7 linked regions of the Homo sapiens genome follow. The protein of the gene in region 1 purifies or fractionates together with the protein of each later gene. This does not show direct contact. Each region holds a gene or a part of one and is shown in the gene's direction. Other genes may lie near its edges. The genes, in order: PALS1, RPH3A, AMOTL1, GAK, MILR1, TWF1 and ZNF451.

Region 1 (3,500 bases):
AGCTCTGATAATGTTGGGCTAGTATTCCTAGGTGACAACAGTCTGCTGGACCTGAGTGATGACTGTTGCTCTTATATCAAGCACCTGGTGTCTAGTTTAACAGTCTCTACCACTCCCAGTGTTTTATTAACCCAACCTGATTTACTGATTTTATTACCTCCTTAGTTTGTTTTTATGGGCATTTGAGTTTGCTACTTCTGTTTGGTTCACATTAGAAGCAACCCAAATAATAAAGCAAAGGCTTTCCTTCTTATGTAATTTATAAGGCTTTTCTGTCAAGAATTTGAAATATTTGGGAGCAGCACACATTAAACTAATAAAGATAAAACATTATAGATCATTATAATATTCCATAAAAGCTAAATGAGGTTTGATCAACTTTAATAAATTTTTTTCTAAAATAAATATCCTTTAATGCTAATTGACAGATTATGTAACTAAAAAGATTTAATGAGTTTTAAATTTTATCCTCTATATTTGTGATTAATATCTCTTTTATTTTTTGAAACAGACTGAAGTTAACTAGTCCAGCTCTAAGAGCTACTGTACTGTAGAAAACGTGGCAAATCTGAACCTTATGGATATACACACTGAGTCTATAAATTAAAATGCTACCAGTCTTGATTATACGTGTTAGAATAAACTCAGATTTTTCAGAGAAAATCATTTTGAGAGGAGAAGGAATTACATTTGCTGTTTATGATGATGTCATCATCATGAATATTTTTAAATAAATAACTACAATTCATAATAACTGCTGTATTCCAGGGCAGTAACTATATGATGTTGTTCTCACAAACTCCTTGAGGTTACAGAGTAATAGATTCAAGTTTAGATATTAGGCCGGGCGCGGTGGGTCATGCCTGTAATCCCAGCACTTTGGGAGGCCGAGGCAGGCGGATCACGAGGTCAGGAGATGGAGACCATCCTGGCTAACATGGTGAAACTCCATCTCTACTAAAAAATACAAAAAATTAGCCAGGCGTGATGGCGGGTGCCTGTAGTCCCAGCTATTCGGGAGGCTGAGGCAGGAGAATGGCGTGAACCCGGGAGGCGGAGCTTGCAGTGAGCCGAGATCGCGCCACTGCACTCCAGCCTGGGCGACAGAGCGAGACTCCGTCTCAAAAAAAAAAAAAAAGTTTAGATATTAAAGTGATTTGCTGAAATTCTTAACAACTAATACATGATTGGTTGAGCTGGAATTTAAACAAGTGTAGTTTGAGCTCCTGCTCTGTGCCAGGCTCTGTGCTGAGCATTGACAAGCCTAAGATGGTCCCCTAACCTCATGGAAATAGAGCTGAGGGAGTCTGACTTCACATCTGATGCTCCTTCACAGTCAGGAGAAGTAATATGAGTGAGGACTTGGCAGGCTACTAGTTATCTGCTTTTGTTCTTACCACTTGACAGCTCTGGTTTCATCTGGATTATGGGCTTTAGGAATGTTACCCCACCTGTCATAATTTATACCTCATTTTGATTCATGACTCTGGGTTAGCATTCCAGAGTAGAGTAAACATAAATGCAGAAAGTGGAGATAGCATGCATATGGCCTGTTTTCAAGTTATACAACTACAGCAGGGGTATCCAATCTTGTGGTTTCCCTGGGCCACATTAGAAGAAGAATAGTCTGGGGCCACACGTAAAATACACTTAACACTAGAGATAGCTGATGAGCTAAAAAAAAAAAAAAAAAAATTGCAAAACAATCTCACAGTGTTTTAAGAAAGTTTACAAATTCGCATTGGGCCCCATTCAAAGCCGTCCTGGGCTGCATGCAGCTCATGGGCCACGGGTTGGACGAGCTTGAACTATAGGAAAGTATTCCAGCTTTCTCTGATAACACTGGTTGTAGCCACTATATGTAAATGTCGGTCTATGCTAGCCATTGTATTCAGCGTATACATTATGTCTGATTCTTAAAACAACCTTCTTAAGTAGAATATTAATATCTGCATTCTTCAAAAATGACGGATATTACTCTTACTAGTTCATTCCCTGGTACCGCATCCTTATTCAAAGTATTGACTGCAAATTAGCTGTTTAATGTAAGAATCAGTATAATTATATTGTATTAGACATTCAAGCATGAATTTTTTATTTCAAATATGAAATGAGATAAAAATTAATAGAAGGAGTATTATATTGTTGTCTGATTCATTTTCATGATACCCTAGCAAGGATGTAATGACAATAAATTGTGCTTTTGTCTAATTTTGGGTGAAGATCTATGAGTATTTATATCTTTAATACATGGCCATAATTTTGTTTGAAGAGCTTAACTTTTTTTTCCCAAAGATTATGACAACGAGGAGATCTTAACCTATGAGGAAATGTCACTTTATCATCAGCCAGCAAATAGGAAGAGACCTATCATCTTGATTGGTCCACAGAACTGTGGCCAGAATGAATTGCGTCAGAGGCTCATGAACAAAGAAAAGGACCGCTTTGCATCTGCAGTTCCTCGTAAGTTTGAATGCATTCCCATTTTCCTGTGCTTTTCAATTTACCAGCTCAGAACCTAACTATATCATGTAGGGAAATTTTTTATTCATTTCATTAAAACACTGTTGTCAGTGAAAGAGGAACTTTAACCAAAGATTTTGACAATTTTTAAATTAAAAATAGTCATTATTAAGAAATTTAAATTTGTCCTTCAAGTATGTACTGATTATTTTCTAAACAAATTTCAGTTTGGGCCCCTTATAATTTCCTGTTCCATAGAGAATCAGTTCCTGCTGCTTTAAAGTGATACAGAAGATAGAAACTTAGGCATAATCTGAAACAGAAGTTATAAGATTATATGGTACCTAATCTTATGGAGATAAACTTTAGGAGAAGATGAGTAGTAGTGTTTTAAATGCAGGATGAAGTAACTTGAAGTGTAAGCATAAAATGTATTGAGATAAATATAACTATTACTAAGATACTACAAACTCATTTTTGTTCATTTTTCAATCTACAAAAAATAAAAACAATGTTAAACATGTAGGCACTTAGCATTTTCTCAGTTTATTATTTTATAATCTGTGTTACAAAATAGAAATTCTTTCTGACTAGCAGAATTATCCCCTGTCCTCACTCTAAGCCATGCCTGTTATTTCTATCTGATTTTGTTTGCCTAGATACAACCCGGAGTAGGCGAGACCAAGAAGTAGCCGGTAGAGATTACCACTTTGTTTCGCGGCAAGCATTCGAGGCAGACATAGCAGCTGGAAAGTTCATTGAGCATGGTGAATTTGAGAAGAATTTGTATGGAACTAGCATAGATTCTGTACGGCAAGTGATCAACTCTGGCAAAATATGTCTTTTAAGTCTTCGTACACAGGTAAAGCTAGAACTTTGTTTTAGGGTTTGAACTTAGAAGGAATGTCATATAGAGTAATCTAGTGGAAGCTATATTTTGGTCCAAGAACAGCGCGACCTAATTAAGTTCTCATACGGTTTTTCCCACTGATTTGCTATCTGAAATCACACAGGTTGCTAAATCTCTTTCAGTTTCC
Region 2 (3,500 bases), on another chromosome or scaffold:
AGAGCATGCTGGGCTTTCTGCAAAGCTGCAGCCACAACTAAATCTTAACCTCTTCTAAGACCCTTACAACCAGTAATTCCCTGGGCCAAGAAGCTGGGCAGGGAGTGGGAGGAGGAGGCAGGGAGCATCTTACCCACCCAGTGCAGAAAGTGATGGCACCTCATTCGCCAGTGTTTCCCACCTCAAGGACCAACACCCCCATTTCACAGAGGAGCAAGTCAAGGCTCAGGAAGTTCCCACAGCACTAGGGCTTGGATCCAAGTCTTTCTAAATCCAAAAGCTCCTCTCCCAGTGGGACTGTTTCTGCAGCCTCGGGTACCTTTCTGCCTTCGGGCCTGTGTCCACACCTGTGAAATGAAAAGGAAAAGGTGAACCCCCAAATGATGCCACCCTCTCTGCTGCATCTCTGTTTGTCTCCTCTCCCTGCTCAGGGACCCCAGGAGGAAGCAGACCGGGTCCTGGGCCAGCAGGACGCTTTCCAGATCAGAAGCCAGGCAAGTATCTGCTTCCTCCCATGCCTGCCCAAGTGGCCACCTCTCCCCTACCTCCCTGAGAGAGAGCAGGCAGCTGCCAGAACGTGACTCAGCCTGCACCCTGAGACCTGTCTGATGAGATCTAAACAGCTCCCCCGAGTCTAAAACTTTAGATAGTCCGTACTAAGATTAGCTAGATAGAAATGCCAACACATATAGTTTAGAGCATAGACTACCTGGGTTCAAATCCCTGCCCCTTCACTTCCTGGCTGTGTGACTTTGGACAAGTTACTTAGCTTCCCTGAGCCTCAGTTTCCTAATTTATAAAATGGGAATAATACTAGGACCTACCTCACAGAATTGTTGGGAGGATTAAACAAACTAACACATAGAAAACCTTGGTGGGTGGCCTGGAATATAATAAGCCCACACTGAGCGACAGTGGTTGCTATTAATATATATGATCAATATGCATCACCATCATATGTACCAGTCACAGCTACAAGACACTTTTTGCTTTCTCAGGCATCAGGCACTGTTTTAAGTGCTACACCTGTATTTGTTCATTAAAAAATACTATTATTTGAGGAGCTTCAGATATTATAATTTCCATTTTACAGATAAAGAAACTGAGGCTCAGAGACATTAAGTAATTTGCCGCAGGTCACATGGCCAAGATTCAAACCCAGGCTGTCTGGGCTCCAGAGTCCACACCACTGATTTGTACCCCCACAAGGTCTGTTTTGCTTACATCTGAATCAGCTCGAGGGGCTTATTGTCAAACACAGATCCCAAGGTCCCACTGCATATCCACTGATTCCGGGTGAAGCCAGGAATCCGCATCTTTTGAAAATGTCCCTAGGTGCTGCTGTTATGAAACAGGGATGCAGCTGCATGTTTCCTGTCCTTATCTCCCTGCAGAGGTGGCTCCGAGCGACCCTGGGACCACTGCCCCACCCCGAGAGGAGAGAACAGGGGGAGTCGGGGGCTACCCAGCAGTTGGAGCCAGAGAGGACCGAATGAGCCACCCCTCCGGACCCTATTCCCAAGCATCTGCAGCTGCCCCCCAGCCTGCTGCAGCCCGCCAGCCACCACCCCCAGAGGAGGAGGAAGAGGAAGCCAACAGCTACGATTCGGATGAAGCAAGTAGGTGGTGCCTAAGGGAGAGGTATCTTGGAAAAATCACTTCAGGAGCCAAGCCCAGGAAAACAGGAACGGCTCAGGAACAGCCCTGTCTATCCCCAGACCCCTAATATACCAGACCTAATAAACATATTAACCAAGTGATAGAAGTACAGATTTGTGTTTCTAAATTCACAAAATATCAGCTTCCTAAAGAGTAAGTGCTACATATATTTTTTATTGTGGTAAAATACAAATAACATCAATGGTACCATGTAAATCATTTTAAAGATTGCAATTCGGTGGCATTGACTACATTCTTGATGTTCAGTCTACTAGCTCCTCAAGAGGTTAAACATAGAATTATTATATGACTCAGCAATTTCGCTCCTAGGTGTGAATTTTAACAATTTTTAAAACTCTTTAATGTATATCTTCTAAAAGTAATTTATTAATCATGATTTAAAATTTACTGGGCATTTTCTCTTGCATCCTTATTGAATGCCTACAATGTACCTATCCCACCCAGGCCCCAAGTCCCAGGGATACGCACACACGTATACACACACACACGTATACACACACACACACACACACACACACACACACACACACACCAGTGGCATTTCCCCCCGCTAACCCTGGTGTGCCTGGGGCAGACTTTGTGAGCTGGAGAGAGGTAGAATTGGCAAGTGTCTGCATCCAATATGTGTTGGTGGGTGGGGACATTACCAGTTGTTTCTGATCAAGTTGGAAAACTGGATCCACACAGAAGGAAAAGATCAAGGGCTGTGACCAGCAACACGGCCTTGACCTGCCATGTCATCTCTCCTCACTGTAAAATGAAAAGCACAGCACCACCTCCCCCACAGGCTAAGGGGCAGATAAACTGAGATACCTTCTGGGAAGGTGCTTCATAAAATGGAAATCATTATTACATAGTGCTAAACACCCACGAGGAATTGTTGTTATGCGTATGGACATCAGAGGTAATAAAAGTCCACACGTGTTGGGCACTCATTTTGTGCTGGGCACTATTCTGAGTGTATTCTGTGCATTTGCCTATTTAATCTTCCCTACGAACCTGGGCATAGTTGCTTTTATAACTCTCATTTTACAGATTGAGAGATGAGGCTCCAAGAGGTTGAGGGACTTGTCCAAGCTCATCCAGTCAGTTCAAGGAGGGGCTGGTGGTCAATCACACAGCTGTAGCAGATCAGAGGCCAGGACTGCATGGAAGATCAGCTGTCCCCCTTCGTGCCCTGTGCACTCCCATGGATCATGGGTCTGCGGTCTCAGGAGAAAGGAGAGGAGTCCACCCATCTTGTCAGCCACAGGCTGGTTCTGCTCTGAAAATGCCCTGTCTATGCACCCTTCTGCCTTCCCTCATCCTGGTCCTTCCCTGGAACACTGGCTACTGCTCCTTCCATCGGCCTTAAATGTCCCCAACCCACCAAGCATAGATGAGTCCTCCCAGCCTCATGTCTGTCCCTGTTATTAACTTATCCCGGCTGTTTATTACAAACCTGTCTCCATACTCTATACTCTTCACACACTCACTCATCTCTATATTTGACAATGGTTTATTGAGCATGTACAAAGTGCCTCAAACTGTTCTAGATGCTGGGGATATCATGGAAAAAAAAAGATAGACATGCCAGCTATTCTCCTGGAGCTAACACTCCAGTGAAGAGAGGCAGTTAACATACCAACGAATTCATTTCGAGTGGAGACAGAGCACCATAAAAGAAATAAAATACATTGAGTGACTATGATGGTAGCTACTTTAGAGAGTGATCAAGGAGGGCTTCTCTGAGGAGGTGACATTTAAGCTGAGATATGGATAACGAGAAGGTGCCAACCATGTAAGGATCTAGAGGGAGAGCATTCCAGGCAGAGGGAACA
Region 3 (3,500 bases), on another chromosome or scaffold:
GCCGAGCTCTTCTGGCCCAGCATGGCCTCCCTTCCCAGCCGCGGCCGGCTGAGCACGACCCCTGCTCACAGCCCCGTCCTGAAACACCCAGCGGCCAAAGGGACCGCAGAGAAACTGGGTATGTGGGCTACCCCACCTTGATGCCCCTGAAAACTGTGGAACTGTCTGGCCTAAGAGAATCTTTTGTTGAGCTAGAGAGGAAGCAGGGGCACCCATCAGCTCTTACTCTATGGGGATGCTATTCTAATGCACTTAGGATATGTGTGCCCTTTCTTATTACGGGAATAAATATGCATATAGACACATCTAGTTTATTACTATTTGAAATGAGTGCACGGCTTGAGACTACCCTGGCAATGCATACTTTTTAACTAACCTTTCCCCGGATGGAGTGACAACAGACCCTCTAAGGGGCTGAATGCCCTCTGGTATGTTTGGGAGCCAGAATTAGGCACCAGGTACATCAAAGGCACAAGTTCACTGTTGCCTTCAGGGCTCTAACTTACCAGGGATTCTGGCCTCAGTGGAGGACATTGTGATGGAAGGAGAAGGTAGATTGACCTGCAGAGTCGGTTAACGTGTGGCACAGCACTTGGGCCAGGACTAACGAGCTGTTTAAAATATTTACGGGAAGACAACTTGGGAGAGGTGATCTTTGCAGTGAGTCCCTAAGTGTCCTGGGTAAGAATAGACCTGGCCTCTTAAGGCACTCCTCTTAAGCAAAGGAGTACCATGGCCATGGTCAGTGGGATCCCACAAATGTTCTTAAATGGGTAAGGCTTTAAGTAGCCAGAGAGTACCCAGCCTACCATTGGCTTCTCCACATCCTAAAACCTGAGACTAATCATGGTCATGGGGACCTCCCTTTTCAGGAATTCTTTTGAGGAGGTGCAGGCTCTGTGGGCCCTAAGTTAACTGTTTCCTCCAAGGGGGTTGTTTATTTCATTTTTCAAAGTAGACAAGTAAATACAATGTTGTCACTTTTTAAAGATGTGATTCTTTTCCAAGTAAGCCAGAGAACCTGTCAAAAGTGCCTAGCTCAGAATATGCACCTGATAGTTTTGAGTAGAGGGTGTGAGGGGCTCCTGTACAGAGTCCCACTGTCATCCTCACCTTCTGAATCCTCTCCCTTCACCATCCTGGTTTGTATTTGTGTCTGAATCCTGGCCCAGTCATTCTGCATGTTCCCACTGTGGGCTGGATCATCTCACATGCCCTGTGGTGAGAATCCTGGGTGTGCAGTGGTATCGGACGTGGGTCCATTTTAGAGAACCTGGAAAGCCTATGCCCCTCCTGAGGAATGGGCAGCTGATGTTTCCCCTCTATTTGGCAGAGAACTCTCCTGGCCATGGGAAGTCGCCTGACCACAGAGGCCGGGTCAGCAGCTTGCTGCACAAGCCCGAGTTCCCTGATGGAGAGATGATGGAAGTCCTCATCTAACTGCCATCCCTGTGGAATTTCAGTACAGAACACTGACAAACAAGGAAAGCGGCAGAGAAAGAAGAAAGACCTAGAAGGTTGTAGATGGGAAATCAGGAATGATTTGAACTGATAAAGATTTCAGACTCATAAGAACACATTTTATAAATGTTAAACACAAAAACTACATGACTGAAGATAGAAGAGAATGCGATGGATTTTATTACACATGGTGGAAGAGAGAAGAGGCGTGTAGGTTTGCAAACAAAGTTAAGAAATAGGAAACTGAATTTTTCATTGTACAGAAAATGTATCTCTTGGGGAGGGCCTGTGTACCCCCATTCTCTGATTATAAACAGATAAACCCAAATGTGGATCATCCTTGGAATACCCCCATTCTCCTTGCCTCTTAGCATGTTTGATTTAAGAAAAGCCTCCAGGAAATCTTGAGAGCCTGTCTTGGCATAATGCAGTGTCACCTGTGCCAACCATGGGGTGTCCCGTGAGTGTGAGTGTGGCAGTGAGAAGAAGCATCGAGGGCGAGGGGAATATGAAAGTTGGTCTTCACCTAATTACCTGTTTGGTTTGGATTTTCAAGAGATGATTGGGCTTCTTAGCTTTTCTGAATTCTGCAGTATTTTCTAAACAGGATAGATTATGATCTCGGTCCCCATCCATCCTAACTTCTGAGTTCATCTCTGTCTCTGCTTTACAGTCTTTAATTTTTTGTTGTTCCTTCATTTTTTTCTTTTTAATAAGACATAGCAGAATTCCTTAGGTATGGGATTTATGAGACCAGTACCTGAACTGTCATCATTCCTACTGTGTTTGATAGTGACCAGTAGGACAAAGCCACGTGCCGACTTCCTGGCTGCTTCACCTTTGCATAGCTGGGTTGCAGCTGCGAACCTCATTCTGACTGTGAACTAAGCAAGCTTTGAGGAGGCAGGAGATTCCGTGGGTCCCTGTGACATATTGCATTAAGATCGTGGCACTTGCTTTTTTGTCTTTCACATCGGCTGTCTTGCAAGGAGCTTGACATTTCCAAATTCCATTGCTCTGTTTGGGGAAGACTTAGGACAGCACTCCAGGAAACAGATGACAATTTACAGACAGTTGTCTCAGTGGTTTCCAGAATCTCACCAGCCTCCCGTATAGCTTCTTGTATTGAGGCTCATGAGCGTATTCACACTCTTTCCTCCCCCGCGCACGCCTCTGCTTGCTCTCGATCAGCATCCAGACCTCCGTGGCACCAGGTTGCCTCTGTTGTGAACTTCTTTTGTAACCTACCAGGCCAGTTGTATATACAGTGTTGTCAGGTTTTTCCGGGTTTCAGTTTTGAGGCAGTTTATTCAAAGTGAGACAGAAGTGCCACGGAAAAGAGGCAGGAGTGTGTTAGGTGGTGGGTCCATTAGACCTCTGCTGTGACATTGCATATTCAGCTCTGCAGACACTGGCTTCCTTTACAAATCTAAGAGATGCTGGATTAGAAAAGAGGAGAAGCTCATCGGGCCATCAGAGAGATGCTCCTACAGGGTCCTGATGTTTTTGTACCTCCAGGTCAGCTGGATCGCTGTTTTCCCAGTTCCCTTTGCTCATGCTTACTTAGAGGAAGAAAGAAAGGGGGGTACCTCTTCCAAGTACCTTCTAAATGAAACACTCAAGAGAGTGCTACTCAGGAAACTTTGCTTGGATCCTAAAATGGACTGGTCTTGGGTGTGTAACCCCGGTGAAGTTATAGCCTCCCCAAATTGAGGTGACAGAAGGAAGACAAGAGGTGTAAGCTGGAGAGGGAAGGGAAGAAATCAGTGGCTTTGGCCAGCCTCTGTGCCACCCAGTACGACAGAGGAGTGGGAACTGGCCCTCTGGGGCTCTGCTTGGCCATAGGCACTGCACATTGTGCCACCTGCTCATCACCTCCTCTAGTCTCACACTGAGCATCGGAGTACCTGTTGTGCAGACAGGAAAACTGAGGAGCTCTGAGAGGCTGAGCATGGAGCTCACCCCATGCCATAGGGTGTGGGAAGAGGGCACAGGAGGCCTCATCCATGGGGGAAAGGGTTGAGGATGGACATGGGTGG
Region 4 (3,540 bases), on another chromosome or scaffold:
TTGGCTCCTGGGGGTGACGTGGGGACACTGCCCCAACCCCCGTGGACAAGCCCTGGGTCTGCCTTGGCTCCTGGGGGTGGGGTGCTGCCTCCACAGCTGCCCTGTCCTGGTGTCTGCCCTCCATCCAGAGTGTTCCCGTCGCCCCAGCACCTGGCCTGTGCTCCAGCCCCTGGAGACCTTCACACGTGTGGGTGGAGCCGGCACCTCTGGACGGCCTCGAGTGATCGGTGTTCTATTTTGCAAGCGCATGTTTTCCAATATACGTGGTGCTCTGCGTTATAGAAACAGTAGTTGCCCCTCATGGACAACCAGATGCCGAGTTTCCGATCTCCATCTCCACAGGCTCACCAGCTGGATTCCCTCCTGGGGGCTTCATTCCCAAAACGGCCACCACGCCCAAAGGCAGCAGCTCCTGGCAGACAAGTCGGCCGCCAGCCCAGGGCGCCTCATGGCCCCCTCAGGCCAAGCCGCCCCCCAAAGCCTGCACACAGCCAAGGCCTAACTATGCCTCGAACTTCAGTGTGATCGGGGCGCGGGAGGAGCGGGGGGTCCGCGCACCCAGCTTTGGTGAGTCCCCCACTCTCTGTTGCTGTGGAGTTTGCAGAGACCTCCCTGAATTGGCTAAAGGTAGAACCTATGTTGTTTTCTTCATCTCAGAGCCCAGTCCTGGGACAGGCACGGCCAAGCCACTCAGAGAACGACGCGGTTTCCGATGTGTGTTCACTGGTCTCTCTCTGGGTCAGGCCTCTGGGTCCCTCTTGTTCCAGTGACACCTTCTTGACCTGTTTTTAACAAATGGCCTTTGCAACCCTGTCTTGTCTTCCCTCTTCTTTACTCTGGAGGCATCAGGATGGTAGCCCTGTTCCCGGGGGCAGCAGGTGGAATTGGGCCTGTGTGTCTCTGCAGAAAGTTTCTGTTCTTAACTGGGCTTTGTGGCTCACGCCTATAATCCCAGCACTTTGGGAGGCTGAGGCGGACAGATCGCTGGAGCCCAGGAGTTCAAGACCAGCTTGGGCAACAGTGATACCTCCTCTCTACAAAAAATGTAAAAATTAGCCAGGCATGGTGGCGCATGCCTGTGGTCCCAGCTACTTGGGAGGCTGAGGCAAGAGGATCGCTTGAGGCCGGGAGGCAAAGGCTGCAGAGAGCTGAGATCACGCCATTGCACTCTGGCCTGGGTGACAGAGTGGAGACCCTGTCTCAAACAAAAAAAAGTTTCTGTTCTTTTCTAGCTCAAAAGCCAAAAGTCTCTGAGAACGACTTTGAAGATCTGTTGTCCAATCAAGGCTTCTCCTCCAGGTCTGACAAGAAAGGGCCAAAGACCATTGCAGAGATGAGGAAGCAGGACCTGGCTAAAGACACGGACCCACTCAAGCTGAAGGTGGGTGGGTGGGCAGCTCTTCCTGGGAGCCCAGAGGCCTCAACCCATGGCCCCTGGAGCATCTGCTGTGCCTTATGGAGCCGGCGTCTCCAGACAGCAACCTTTCACCCCTGGAGCATCTGCTGTACCACATGGAGCCGGCGTCTCCAGACAGGGACCTGTCACTGCCGATGGGCCTGGCAGCCCTCAAGGACAGGGTGGCCTGAGGCCAGGGGGGCAGGGCAGAGTCAGGCCCCAGGCTGTGCTGCTCCCCACGTGCCCAGATGGCTCAGCGCTGGTGGGGGTGGGGTGGGCGGGCGTTACAGGAGTGAGTGCCCCGGGGTGTTTGCAGAGACTGTTGAGGGCAGGCGTCTCTTGGGGGCTGCTCTGGGTACTGAGCCTCCCAACCCAGGACGCTCACTGGGGGGTGAGGATGCAGCGGTCAGGCTGTCACTGTGCCGGCCCTGAGACACGCCCTGCTCTGTGGCTTGGCCGATGCCCAGCTCTGCAGGCCACATGCGCCTGTGACCTTGGGGTCCTTTCACAGGCACCAGGGACCATCCCCTTCTCCCTCGGAGTCTGGGGCCTGGGATGGGCCAAGGGGTTGCACCACCAGAACCAGGGTTTGTGTCCTCGGTGAACATCTGGCTGAGACGAGGGTCCCTCTGGCCCCAGGCCCTGAAACATGAAGACCACCTGGCCCTGTGTCGTCCGGAGTGGGCTCTATATAGTTGAGGGCAGGGCGTGCAGTGGGACAGTGTCTGTGAGCCGGGCTGAGCCCACCCCACGTGACCAGGCACTTCCTCAGCGTCGTGCCTCAGTTTCCGCGGTGCAGAGGAGGAGGGCAGGCAGGTGCCCAGGGCTCGGCAAGCTCCGTGTCTCCCGCAGCTCCTGGACTGGATTGAGGGCAAGGAGCGGAACATCCGGGCCCTGCTGTCCACGCTGCACACAGTGCTGTGGGACGGGGAGAGCCGCTGGACGCCCGTGGGCATGGCCGACCTGGTGGCTCCGGAGCAAGTGAAGAAGCACTATCGCCGCGCGGTGCTGGCTGTGCACCCCGACAAGGTGAGCAGAGCTGCCAGGCGGCCGCTTGAGGCCTTCAGGGGCGGGGCGGGGGGGGGGTCCTGCCCCGCCCGCCCCCGCATGCTTATAAGAGGCGCTTACACCGCCTGTCACCCATAGGCTGCGGGGCAGCCGTACGAGCAGCACGCCAAGATGATCTTCATGGAGCTGAATGACGCCTGGTCGGAGTTTGAGAACCAGGGCTCCCGGCCCCTCTTCTGAGGCCGCAGTGGTGGTGGCTGCGCACACAGCTCCACAGGTTGGGAGCCGTCGTGGGACCTGGGTCCCCACCGTGAGGACCCCGTGGGCGACAGCAGGTGTGGCCAGGGTGGGGCTCCGAGCCCCGGGTCACCGCCCGCCCAGCGTTCCAGGCACATGAAGAGAAAGCATTCCAAAGCCTCTGATTGTTGTTTCCTTTTTCTCCTCCCGAAGGAACAGCTGATTCATGCTCCTCCCGCAATTGTCACGTCTGTGATTTATTTGGTGTTTCGGGCGTGGCCTCTGGAGCCCCGGCACGTGGTGGGCCACGCTGCTGGCGCTCATGGGCCCTGGTGTTTGCACCGCACTTTGTAATCAGTCCCGTGGTTGTCTGTACAGAATTAAACTATTTTCCGATGACTGCTGTGTCTCCAGTGTGGATCCACTCGCCCAGGTGCCGTTCACCAGCTGGGGCACAAGGCTGTGCTTCCTCAGCAACCTTGCCGTGGTTGGATTGTTGCAGGGGCCGAGTGGAGAGGAGAAGCGGGTCCCGGGGCTGCAGCGGCTCTGGGCAGCTCTTCAGGGGGCCATAGAGCCCAGCCAGGGCAAGGCCAAGGGCGGGGGCCCCTGCAGTCCCCAGACCCCCTTCCTCCCCTCGGCCCCGGGACTCCTCTCTCCTCTCCACTTGGCCCCTGCCCCTGGGCCCTGGACCTAGGAGCAAGGGTGGGCTCCACACTGCCCCTGTGCCATCCCCGCAGGGCCAAGGTGGCCTCCGGGCTGTCGGGCTGGTGGAGGACCAGGGGCCCCTGGAAGGAGAAGGTGACCATGGTGAGCCCCCACCCCACAGCAGACTCGAGGAGGCCCTGAATCATAGCCCTGAACTCACCGCCAGGCTCTTCCTGTTTTCAGAGAATAATGAC
Region 5 (3,500 bases), on another chromosome or scaffold:
CATACTTTTATGGCAAAACCCACAATTACTTTTTTTTTTTTTTTGAAATGGAGTCTCGCTCTGTTGCCCAGGCTGGAGTGCAGTGGTGCAATCTCGGCTCACAGCAGCCTCTGTCTCCCTGGTTCAAGCGATTCTCCTGCCTCAGCCTCCTGAGTAGCTGGGATTACAGGCACCCACCACCATGTATTTTTAGTAAAGACAGGGTTTCACCATGTTGGTCAGGTTGGTCTTGAACTCCTGACCTCAGGTGATCTGCTCGCCTCAGCCTCCCAAAGTGCTGGGATTACAGATGTGAGCCATTACGCCCGGCCCACAGTTACTTTTGCACCAACCTAATATATACATATTTTTTATTTCTACATTTCTATGCTTTCTAGATTTTCAATGTAGAAGTATAATCTATTCTACTATAAGATTTTTTAAAAAACTTTATTAAACACACCAGACTCAAAAAAACAAAAACAGAAACAAAAAAGCATCATTTCTCTCTTCCCCACCTTAAGTGCTACATCCAGCAGAAAACTTGTCAATGTTATTAGAAGCCTCAGTTACAGCTTTTTTAAAAAAATGTTTTTTAGAGACGGGGTCTCACTGTGTTGCCTAGGCTGGTCTTGAACTCCTGGACTCAGGCGATCCTCCCACCTCAGCCTCCCAAAGTGCTGGGATTACAGGCATGAGCCACTGCACTCAGCCCAGTTACTGCTTTTCATTCCTCACGTCTTATGGCCACCACTGGTTAAGCCTTCAAAGTGGTTTTTTCATTTGGTACACGAGTGCAGAAGGATATGAAGATTTACACAAAAGACAGTTTGGGTCTCAGCACTGGCCCCCATCAGCAAGCTGAGGGCTGTTGGACAAGCCCCTCAGGCTGTTGCTTCTGAGCCTCAGTGTTCTGAGTTGTGGAATGGGCCATGGAGATATTGTCAGAACTGGCAAGAGAACCAATTGAGAACCATCTCCAGAGAGTCACAACTCAGAGAAGTCAGGGACTCAGTTGACATAAAACTTGAACACAGAGGTCACAAGTTATACATCTGATGCATCTTTAAGATTTTATTTTATTTCATTTCTTTTTTTTAGAGATGGGGCTTCACTGTGTTGCCCAGGCTGGAGTGCAGTGGTGCCACCATAGCTCACTGTAACCTCCCACCTTAGCCTCCCTAGTAGCTGGGAATACAGGTATGCACCACAACTCCTGGCTAATTTTTTTTTTTTTTTTTTTTTTTTGAGGCAGAGTCTCGCTCTGTTGCCCAGGCTGGAGTGCAGTGGCACAATCTCCGCTCACTGCAACCTCTGCCTCCCAGGTTCAAGCGTTTCTCCTGCCTCAGCATCCTGAGTAGCTGGGATTACAGGCGCCCACCACCACGCTAGGCTAATTTTTGTATTTTTAGTAGAGATGGGGTTTCACTATGTTGGCCAGGCTGGTCTTGAACTTCTGACCTCGTGATCCGCCCACCGCGGCCTCCCAAAGTGCTGGGGCTGGTGAGCCACCGCGCCTGACATTTTTTTTTTTTTTTTTTTTTTTGAGACAGGATCTCACTTCCATCACCCAAGGCTGGAGTGCGGTGGTGCAATCATGGCTCACTGCAGCCTTGACCTCCCAGGCCTCCTCCTGCCTCAGCTACCTGAGTAGTTGGGACCACAGGCGCGCACCACCATGCCTGGCTAATTTTTTTTTTTTTTGTAGGTTTCACCATGTTTCCCAGGCTAGTCTTGAACTCCTGGACTCAAACCATCCTCCTGCCTCAGCCTCCCAAAGTGCTGGGATTACAGTTTTTTGTTTTTTTTTTAATTACAAAATTCTTTTTAGAGACAAGGTCTCACTATGTTCCCCAGGGTGGTCTTGAATTCCTGGCTTCAAGTGATCCTCCCACCTCAGCTTCCCAAAGCACTGGGATTACAGGCGTGAGCCACTGCACCCTGGCCCACATCTCATATGTCTTAAAAACATGTTTCTCCTTCTTATAAAAAGTCCAGGTTCTTGCAAAAGTGGCATTAATATTTTTGATTACTGGCTGGAGCTACAATAGAATTCAGTGAGGCTGGCCGGGCACAGTGGCTCATGCCTGTAGTCCCAGCACTTTGATCACCTGAAGTCTGGAGTTTGAGACCAGCCTGGCTAACATGGTGAAGCCCCGCCTCTACTAAAAATACAAAAAATTAGCCAGGCATTGTGGCACATGCCTGTAATCCCAGCTATTCAGGAGGCTGAGGCAGGAGAATCGCTTGAAACCAGGATGCGGAGGTTGCGGTGAGCGGAGATTGCACCATGGCACTCCAGCCTGGGCAACAGAGCAAGACTCCGTCTCAAAAAAATACAAAAATTAGCTGGGCATGGTGGTGCACAACTGTAATCCCAGCTACTCGGGAGGCTGAGGCAGGAAAATCGCTTGAAACCAGGATGCGGAGGTTGCGGTGAGCCGAGATCACGATAGTGCCACTGCACTCCAGCCCAGGCGACAGAGCGAGACTCCATCTTAAAAAAAAAGAATTCAATAGGCCATTTACACTCTCTTGAAGATATTACAAAGCTTCCACAGACTATTCTCTTCAGCGAAGGAAAGAAAATAAGTCTGGCTAGTTCAGGCATAATCTGATAGGCAAAGCATGTTCCTCTGAAGGCCAGGAAAATAAATCAGAACAGCCCCTGGCTTGGAGGAGCGGTGTCTAGACTCCCTGTTGAGTCTATAGTTTTCCTTTGTTAGACAACAGTTTGGGCCATTGGAGCAAGTCACTCTCTGTTTCAGAACTTTGAGGGAATTCTGCTCCTTGGCCGAGGAGATGAGAAAAATGTGGCTGAATTGGTTTAATTTGATGATTCCTACCTATTTACGTAGGAAAAGCTATGAGAAATAATGTGCCCAGGGACCGTGGAGACACAGCCATGGAAGTTGGAATCTATGCAAATATCCTTGAAAAACAAGCAAGTAAGAGAACTTTGTTGCGTGTTTTGGGTGGTTTCAGGTTTTTGTCTTTTTATTTTGTTAAGGTTGTACAGACATACGGGAGTGGGGGGTGGAGCAAAAGGGATAGAGTTCAATGTCTATTGATGCCCAGTCCCACTTTCTAGGGGTAATAACCAGTTTTTTAAATCCTTCCACAGATATTCTGTGTGTATAATAAACAAATGGTAGTGATTGTAGCATATTGTAGGTATGACTTTCTACACCATGATTTTGTTTTTTTTTCATGTAACAACGTATCTTGGAGATTTTTCACATCTGTTCAGAATGATCCACACTGTGTTTCACAGTCTTTCACGGTCACCTCTCAAAGCAGGCATTGCATATTGCTTTGCAGTAAACAAGACCCAGCGCCTCGGCTGATGTATTAGTCCATTCTCATGCTACTATAAGGACATACCTGAGATGGGGTAGTTTATAAAGGAAAGAGGTTTAATTGACCCACAGTTCCGCAGGGCTTGGGAGGCCTCGGGAGACTTACAATCATGGTGGAAGGGGAAGCAAACACATCCTTCTTCCCAAGGCGGTAGGAGAGAG
Region 6 (3,095 bases), on another chromosome or scaffold:
CTAAGAATCAATCACTTTATCATGGGTAGCACCTTCTATAGCAGGGATCAGCTGACTTTCTACAGAGGACCAAATAGTAAGTAAAGGCTTTGCCAAGCCACATATAATCTCTGTCATATATTCTTATTGTTGTTTAACAACCCTTAAAAAATGTAAAACAATCTTACCTTGGGCAAGATTTGGCCTTCGGGCCATGGTTTGTTTACCTCTCTTGTAGAGGGCTTTCAAGTGACCCAAGTGATGAAAGGGTCATGAGTAAATGTTCCTTGAATAAATAGTGTATCATAGCAACTTGAGAATGTAGTGGTGGCTTCTACTTTTAAACATTATTTAAACTGGAGCACTAAGAAAGAACCAAGAAGGAAGTGAATGTAGCTGATTATATATTCAAGTAACTCATTTAGCCCCTTCCCCCAAAAGAAGAAAGTGAAACTGTTTACATATGGTCCTTGATTCTGCCTTACTGGAAAGGGTATTATTTGTGAGCATTCATATACCTGAAAACCAGCTTGTTGCTTGTATTAGGTTTTGAATGTTGTGCTTCTAATTTTATCTTTTACAGATCGAGATAGACAATGGGGATGAGTTGACTGCAGACTTCCTTTATGAAGAAGTACATCCCAAGCAGCATGCACACAAGCAAAGTTTTGCAAAACCAAAAGGTCCTGCAGGAAAAAGAGGAATTCGAAGACTAATTAGGGGCCCAGCGGAAACTGAAGCTACTACTGATTAAAGTCATCACATTAAACATTGTAATACTAGTTTTTTAAAAGTCCAGCTTTTAGTACAGGAGAACTGAAATCATTCCATGTTGATATAAAGTAGGGAAAAAAATTGTACTTTTTGGAAAATAGCACTTTTCACTTCTGTGTGTTTTTAAAATTAATGTTATAGAAGACTCATGATTTCTATTTTTGAGTTAAAGCTAGAAAAGGGTTCAACATAATGTTTAATTTTGTCACACTGTTTTCATAGCGTTGATTCCACACTTCAAATACTTCTTAAAATTTTATACAGTTGGGCCAGTTCTAGAAAGTCTGATGTCTCAAAGGGTAAACTTACTACTTTCTTGTGGGACAGAAAGACCTTAAAATATTCATATTACTTAATGAATATGTTAAGGACCAGGCTAGAGTATTTTCTAAGCTGGAAACTTAGTGTGCCTTGGAAAAGGCCGCAAGTTGCTTACTCCGAGTAGCTGTGCTAGCTCTGTCAGACTGTAGGATCATGTCTGCAACTTTTAGAAATAGTGCTTTATATTGCAGCAGTCTTTTATATTTGACTTTTTTTTAATAGCATTAAAATTGCAGATCAGCTCACTCTGAAACTTTAAGGGTACCAGATATTTTCTATACTGCAGGATTTCTGATGACATTGAAAGACTTTAAACAGCCTTAGTAAATTATCTTTCTAATGCTCTGTGAGGCCAAACATTTATGTTCAGATTGAAATTTAAATTAATATCATTCAAAAGGAAACAAAAAATGTTGAGTTTTAAAAATCAGGATTGACTTTTTTCTCCAAAACCATACATTTATGGGCAAATTGTGTTCTTTATCACTTCCGAGCAAATACTCAGATTTAAAATTACTTTAAAGTCCTGGTACTTAACAGGCTAACGTAGATAAACACCTTAATAATCTCAGTTAATACTGTATTTCAAAACACATTTAACTGTTTTCTAATGCTTTGCATTATCAGTTACAACCTAGAGAGATTTTGAGCCTCATATTTCTTTGATACTTGAAATAGAGGGAGCTAGAACACTTAATGTTTAATCTGTTAAACCTGCTGCAAGAGCCATAACTTTGAGGCATTTTCTAAATGAACTGTGGGGATCCAGGATTTGTAATTTCTTGATCTAAACTTTATGCTGCATAAATCACTTATCGGAAATGCACATTTCATAGTGTGAAGCACTCATTTCTAAACCTTATTATCTAAGGTAATATATGCACCTTTCAGAAATTTGTGTTCGAGTAAGTAAAGCATATTAGAATAATTGTGGGTTGACAGATTTTTAAAATAGAATTTAGAGTATTTGGGGTTTTGTTTGTTTACAAATAATCAGACTATAATATTTAAACATGCAAAATAACTGACAATAATGTTGCACTTGTTTACTAAAGATATAAGTTGTTCCATGGGTGTACACGTAGACAGACACACATACACCCAAATTATTGCATTAAGAATCCTGGAGCAGACCATAGCTGAAGCTGTTATTTTCAGTCAGGAAGACTACCTGTCATGAAGGTATAAAATAATTTAGAAGTGAATGTTTTTCTGTACCATCTATGTGCAATTATACTCTAAATTCCACTACACTACATTAAAGTAAATGGACATTCCAGAATATAGATGTGATTATAGTCTTAAACTAATTATTATTAAACCAATGATTGCTGAAAATCAGTGATGCATTTGTTATAGAGTATAACTCATCGTTTACAGTATGTTTTAGTTGGCAGTATCATACCTAGATGGTGAATAACATATTCCCAGTAAATTTATATAGCAGTGAAGAATTACATGCCTTCTGGTGGACATTTTATAAGTGCATTTTATATCACAATAAAAATTTTTTCTCTTTAAGTTGTGTATGTTCTGTTGGTTTTTCTACTATAGTTTTTTTAATTGTTTGTGTAATGTTTCATAATTCAGTACCTGGTGTTAGGTTAGGAATCCCATTCATTTATTTGTTAATTAGTCTGCCTAAGTCCAAAAAGGATTTTAAGTAGCTTTAAACCTAGGCAAGAATAATTGTGACTATAGAGTGCTTAGATTAAAAATTTGCCACTGTTGTAGCAATAATAAAAATGCCATGAGTTATTCATTTTCTGTAACAGAAGCACCCCAGTACTGATTTACTTGACACTAAACTCAGACTTGCCACTGTATTCATTCATGTGAAAAATGTTGAATGCACTCCTGTGTGCGATTTGGTTTCAAATCCTTTTTATTAGAGATGTGACAAGATGGATGTCTTTGGTAGCAGTTTTACAAAAGATGCTGAAATAGCTTTAGAAAGGCTCATCGTTGGGCCGGGCACGGTGGCTCACGCCTGTAATCCCAGCACTTTGGGAGGCCGAGGC
Region 7 (3,500 bases), on another chromosome or scaffold:
GGCTGAAATGGTTCTTGTGCCTCAGCCTCCCAAGTAGCTGGGACTACAGGAGCATACCACCATGCCCAGCTAATACTTGTATTTTTAGTAGAGACGGGGTTTCTCCATGTTAGCCAGGCTGGTCTCAAACTCCTGGCCTCAAGTGATCTGCCCGCCTAGGCCTCCCAAAGTGCTGGGATTACAGGTGTGAGCCACTGCGCCCTGCTGATGATACTGTATTTGATATATATTAAGACACTTTCATATTTTAATATCTCTAAAATTAAGAGGTACCTTAACAATCACTGTTGGCCTAGACAGAATTTGCATTTGCTTCTGTCTCTGCTGGGTACCTAGAGAAACTGCCAAACTGAGACCCACTTTAAATTTTCTGCTTGGGGACTTACATGTCACACTGATAATGTGAATTTACTCTGCAAACTTGTTGACTGCAGCTTATGGTTTAAACAACAAAAGATTTCTTTTTCAGTCTATCTAATGCCAAGATTGAATCATGCAAATTGCCTTGCTTACCTTTTCTCTATGGCAGATTTATTTCTTATTTACCCTTATATTGAGCGTATAGCCCTTTGGCATTTCAACCTTATGTGAGGTCTGTTGGACTTCCATTTTGGCTTTTTCTTTTCATGGCACATTAAATAGCTTATATAATTTAATGGCATCTTATATTTGATTAAATGTGGGGTATTTCATTTATGAACGAGTTCTTTCTTTCTCTCTTTTTTTTTTTTTCCTTTTTGAGACGGAGTGTCACTCTGTCGCCCAGGCTGGAGTGCAGTGGCGCGATCTTGGCTGCAACTTCTGCCTCCCGAGTTCAAGTGATTCTCCAGCCTCAGCCTGGAGAATCCCGAGTAGTTGGGATTACAAGCGCATGCCACCACACCCAGCTAATTTTTGCATTTTTTAATAGAGACCGCGTTTCACCATGTTGGCCGGGCTGGTCTCGAACTCCTGACCTCAAGCGATCCACCTGCTTTAGCCTCCCAAAGTGTTGGGATTACAGGCGTGAGCCACTGCACCCAGCTGAAGGAGATCTTTATGTCATACTTTGGTAGGGACTAGGGAACAAGCTTAATATACCTTCCTAGGCATGTGTTCATTCTGAAATAGATGTAACTTGTTTTGAAACTCATGCTGATTTTTTATCAACCTGTGCCATTTGTTCTAACTTAGGCTGGCCGTCTAGATGAACAACTACCCAAGCAAATTCCTTTCACCATCCTCTCAGGAGATCAAGGTTTTCTGGAGCTAGAGAATCAATTTAAGAAGACTCAGAGGCCAGCTCATATACTAAACCCTCACCACTTAGAGGGAGATATGATGTGTGCCTTGTTAAATAGCATATCTGATACCACCAAAGGTACGCAGCTGCAGTCACAGTGCAAACCACCCAAGAGGAGGAGACTTCACTGCTGAGAGAAACCAATAAACTGCTGTCCGCTAGTGAACTGTTGCCTGCTTGCTAAACCATCATGTTCTCTTACTTCTATCTTACTTATCTTTTTTAAAAAAATCTCACTTTCATTCTTTAGTGTTTTAGAAGGAGGATGAATTCATAATAATTTTCTGGAGCTTTTTTTGATCTAGTAGATAAAATCTATATTGATGTATATAAAACATATATTCATGTGTTACAGTATGTTACTACAATTTTAAAAGCTCAGAATTCAGATCTTCACTTTGTTTCTGAAATTCCAAGTTGACCTTCAGTTTTTTAGAAAGCAGTGCGCTTAGAGGTGAAAACCAGAAAGCAATAACAAAGGTGATCATTTAAGAGGTTGACAGTGACAAAATAAAACGCTGATAGGCTTTTAGGTCCTTAGAGAAGTGGGTACATCCTATCTTATTGCTGGGACTTGCACTTTCTTCTGTACCTTTGTGAGATTGTTCAATGAAAGGAGTGCTGATACCCAATTTCACTTCCTAGTATATAAGAAAAGATGTAATTCTAAGGATTCAGAAGTTTTGTTTTTCGTTTTTCATAATTTCTGCAGTCAAATGCTCTACCACTGAGTTATAACCCCCTTTTTCATAATCTCTGAAGTAAAGAAATATGGATAGAATAATTAATGTTTAAATATCCTAATAATTTAAATTCATGAATAAGGTTTGAAGATATTAATGAATTACCTTAATGAAAAATAGTGGCTTTTTGGCATTTTTATTGTGTGCCTTTAAAGCTTTCAAGTCTGCTTGCCTCCTAGATTTTTTTTTTCTTTCAATATATTTGGAAGCACATTTTGATTGAAAACTCATTCTGGAGAATTTTGCTGTAATCACTGATTACAGTGGATCAATTCACTTCTGCAAAGTTAGGAATCAGTAATCTGTGCTCTTTATACTCTTTAAAGTGGAGTAATGATGGAAGATTATAAAAGAAAATGAACTCTTGTGTCTTTATGTCATGCCTTAGTTCTGAGTATTATCTTCCTATTCTGTAATTTTTGTTTTCACTTGTTTTTCTATCTGTGGCTTTCTTTTTTCTTAAAACAAAAAACAAAAAAACAAAAAAAACAGGCTGGGTGCAGTGGCTCACACCTGTAATCCCAGCACTTTGGGAGGCTGAGGTGGGTGGATCACCTGAGGTCAGAAGTTCAAGACCAGCCTGGTCAACATGGTGAAAACCCATCTCTACTAAATATACAAAAATTAGCTGGGCATGGTGGCGGTTGCCTGTAATCCCAGCTACTCGGGAGGCTGAGGCAGGAGAATCGCTTGAACCCAGGAGGCGGAGGTTGCAGTGAGCTGAGATTGCACCATTGCGCTCCAGCCTGGGCAATAAGACCAAAAACTTCGTCTCAAACAAAAAGCAAAACACCTCTTCTACTCTTTTGCCATCGCTTTCCCAGTTCTCAACATCTACTTAATATCCTATAAGATAAAGTTTTACCTTTGCCGCACAAGGCCAACCTCCCTTTCCTTCTCTTATGCTTCTGCTTTTGGGAACATTTCTTTTATAACTCCAAATGTGAAACCTGTTATGGTTTTGCAGAGGCAAAACCATATTCTGTTTGGAATGAGAGGTGAATACGAGTAGACTTGCATGGGTATATTACAGTTGGAGGTAAGATACAGGTTATTAATATCTGCTGATTATGCCCTTCCAAATGACTCTTATGTTCTAGGTATTCTTTTTTTTTTTTTTTTTTTTTAATCACTCATACTCAGTACTCATTTGAACTAACTACTCTCTGGAGGCACATGTGTACTTTATTCTTAGTTTTTGTGACATACAGAGATTGTGCACTGCATGAAGAAGGATATGGGCTTTGGTTCAAATGCTAACTTTGCTGTTTCCTAGCAGCGCGATTTCAGGCATGTTACTTAACTTTTTTGGAGCCTCATTTTTTTGTATTTATATGGTTGTAATAGTTAGTGATGTATGTAAAGTGTCTAGCACAGTATATAAAGCACTTTAGCTATTTAACAAATAATAGCTATTTTTTATTATTACTACCATAAAAAGAAAATGTGATTCCTAGCCACTACATTTTTAATGT

What was found.
Region 2: the proteins of PALS1 (region 1) and RPH3A purify together in Homo sapiens (affinity purification with mass spectrometry; 2 studies listed by BioGRID and IntAct, with this or other methods). This does not show direct contact.
Region 3: the proteins of PALS1 (region 1) and AMOTL1 purify together in Homo sapiens (affinity purification with mass spectrometry; 3 studies listed by BioGRID and IntAct, with this or other methods). This does not show direct contact.
Region 4: the proteins of PALS1 (region 1) and GAK purify together in Homo sapiens (affinity purification with mass spectrometry; 2 studies listed by BioGRID and IntAct, with this or other methods). This does not show direct contact.
Region 5: the proteins of PALS1 (region 1) and MILR1 purify together in Homo sapiens (co-immunoprecipitation; one large-scale study listed by IntAct). This does not show direct contact.
Region 6: the proteins of PALS1 (region 1) and TWF1 purify together in Homo sapiens (co-immunoprecipitation; one large-scale study listed by IntAct). This does not show direct contact.
Region 7: the proteins of PALS1 (region 1) and ZNF451 purify together in Homo sapiens (affinity purification with western blotting; one study listed by BioGRID). This does not show direct contact.

What each region holds. Positions count from the first base shown.
Region 1 is NC_000014.9:67,317,935-67,321,434, forward strand, and holds part of PALS1 (protein PALS1), read left to right. Parts: intron 1-2,295; coding exon 2,296-2,463; intron 2,464-3,122; coding exon 3,123-3,325; intron 3,326-3,500. UniProt on the Homo sapiens protein: Plays a role in tight junction biogenesis and in the establishment of cell polarity in epithelial cells.
Region 2 is NC_000012.12:112,875,248-112,878,747, forward strand, and holds part of RPH3A (rabphilin-3A), read left to right. Parts: intron 1-431; coding exon 432-494; intron 495-1,394; coding exon 1,395-1,619; intron 1,620-3,500. UniProt on the Homo sapiens protein: Plays an essential role in docking and fusion steps of regulated exocytosis.
Region 3 is NC_000011.10:94,869,356-94,872,855, forward strand, and holds part of AMOTL1 (angiomotin-like protein 1), read left to right. Parts: coding exon 1-118; intron 119-1,333; coding exon 1,334-1,440; 3' UTR 1,441-3,500. UniProt on the Homo sapiens protein: Inhibits the Wnt/beta-catenin signaling pathway, probably by recruiting CTNNB1 to recycling endosomes and hence preventing its translocation to the nucleus.
Region 4 is NC_000004.12:848,777-852,316, reverse strand, and holds the end of GAK (cyclin-G-associated kinase), read left to right. Parts: intron 1-342; coding exon 343-567; coding exon of another isoform or gene 568-770; exon of another isoform or gene 771-1,008; intron 1,009-1,232; coding exon 1,233-1,381; intron 1,382-2,248; coding exon 2,249-2,425; intron 2,426-2,542; coding exon 2,543-2,644; 3' UTR 2,645-3,040; downstream 3,041-3,540. UniProt on the Homo sapiens protein: Associates with cyclin G and CDK5. Seems to act as an auxilin homolog that is involved in the uncoating of clathrin-coated vesicles by Hsc70 in non-neuronal cells. Expression oscillates slightly during the cell cycle, peaking at G1.
Region 5 is NC_000017.11:64,462,615-64,466,114, forward strand, and holds part of MILR1 (allergin-1 isoform Allergin-1L precursor), read left to right. Parts: intron 1-2,837; coding exon 2,838-2,927; intron 2,928-3,500. UniProt on the Homo sapiens protein: Immunoglobulin-like receptor which plays an inhibitory role in degranulation of mast cells. Negatively regulates IgE-mediated mast cell activation and suppresses the type I immediate hypersensitivity reaction.
Region 6 is NC_000012.12:43,793,223-43,796,317, reverse strand, and holds the end of TWF1 (twinfilin-1), read left to right. Parts: intron 1-167; exon of another isoform or gene 168-343; intron 344-497; exon of another isoform or gene 498-516; intron 517-562; coding exon 563-733; 3' UTR 734-2,595; downstream 2,596-3,095. UniProt on the Homo sapiens protein: Actin-binding protein involved in motile and morphological processes. Inhibits actin polymerization, likely by sequestering G-actin. By capping the barbed ends of filaments, it also regulates motility.
Region 7 is NC_000006.12:57,152,688-57,156,187, forward strand, and holds part of ZNF451 (E3 SUMO-protein ligase ZNF451), read left to right. Parts: intron 1-1,173; coding exon 1,174-1,360; intron 1,361-3,500. UniProt on the Homo sapiens protein: E3 SUMO-protein ligase; has a preference for SUMO2 and SUMO3 and facilitates UBE2I/UBC9-mediated sumoylation of target proteins. Plays a role in protein SUMO2 modification in response to stress caused by DNA damage and by proteasome inhibitors (in vitro).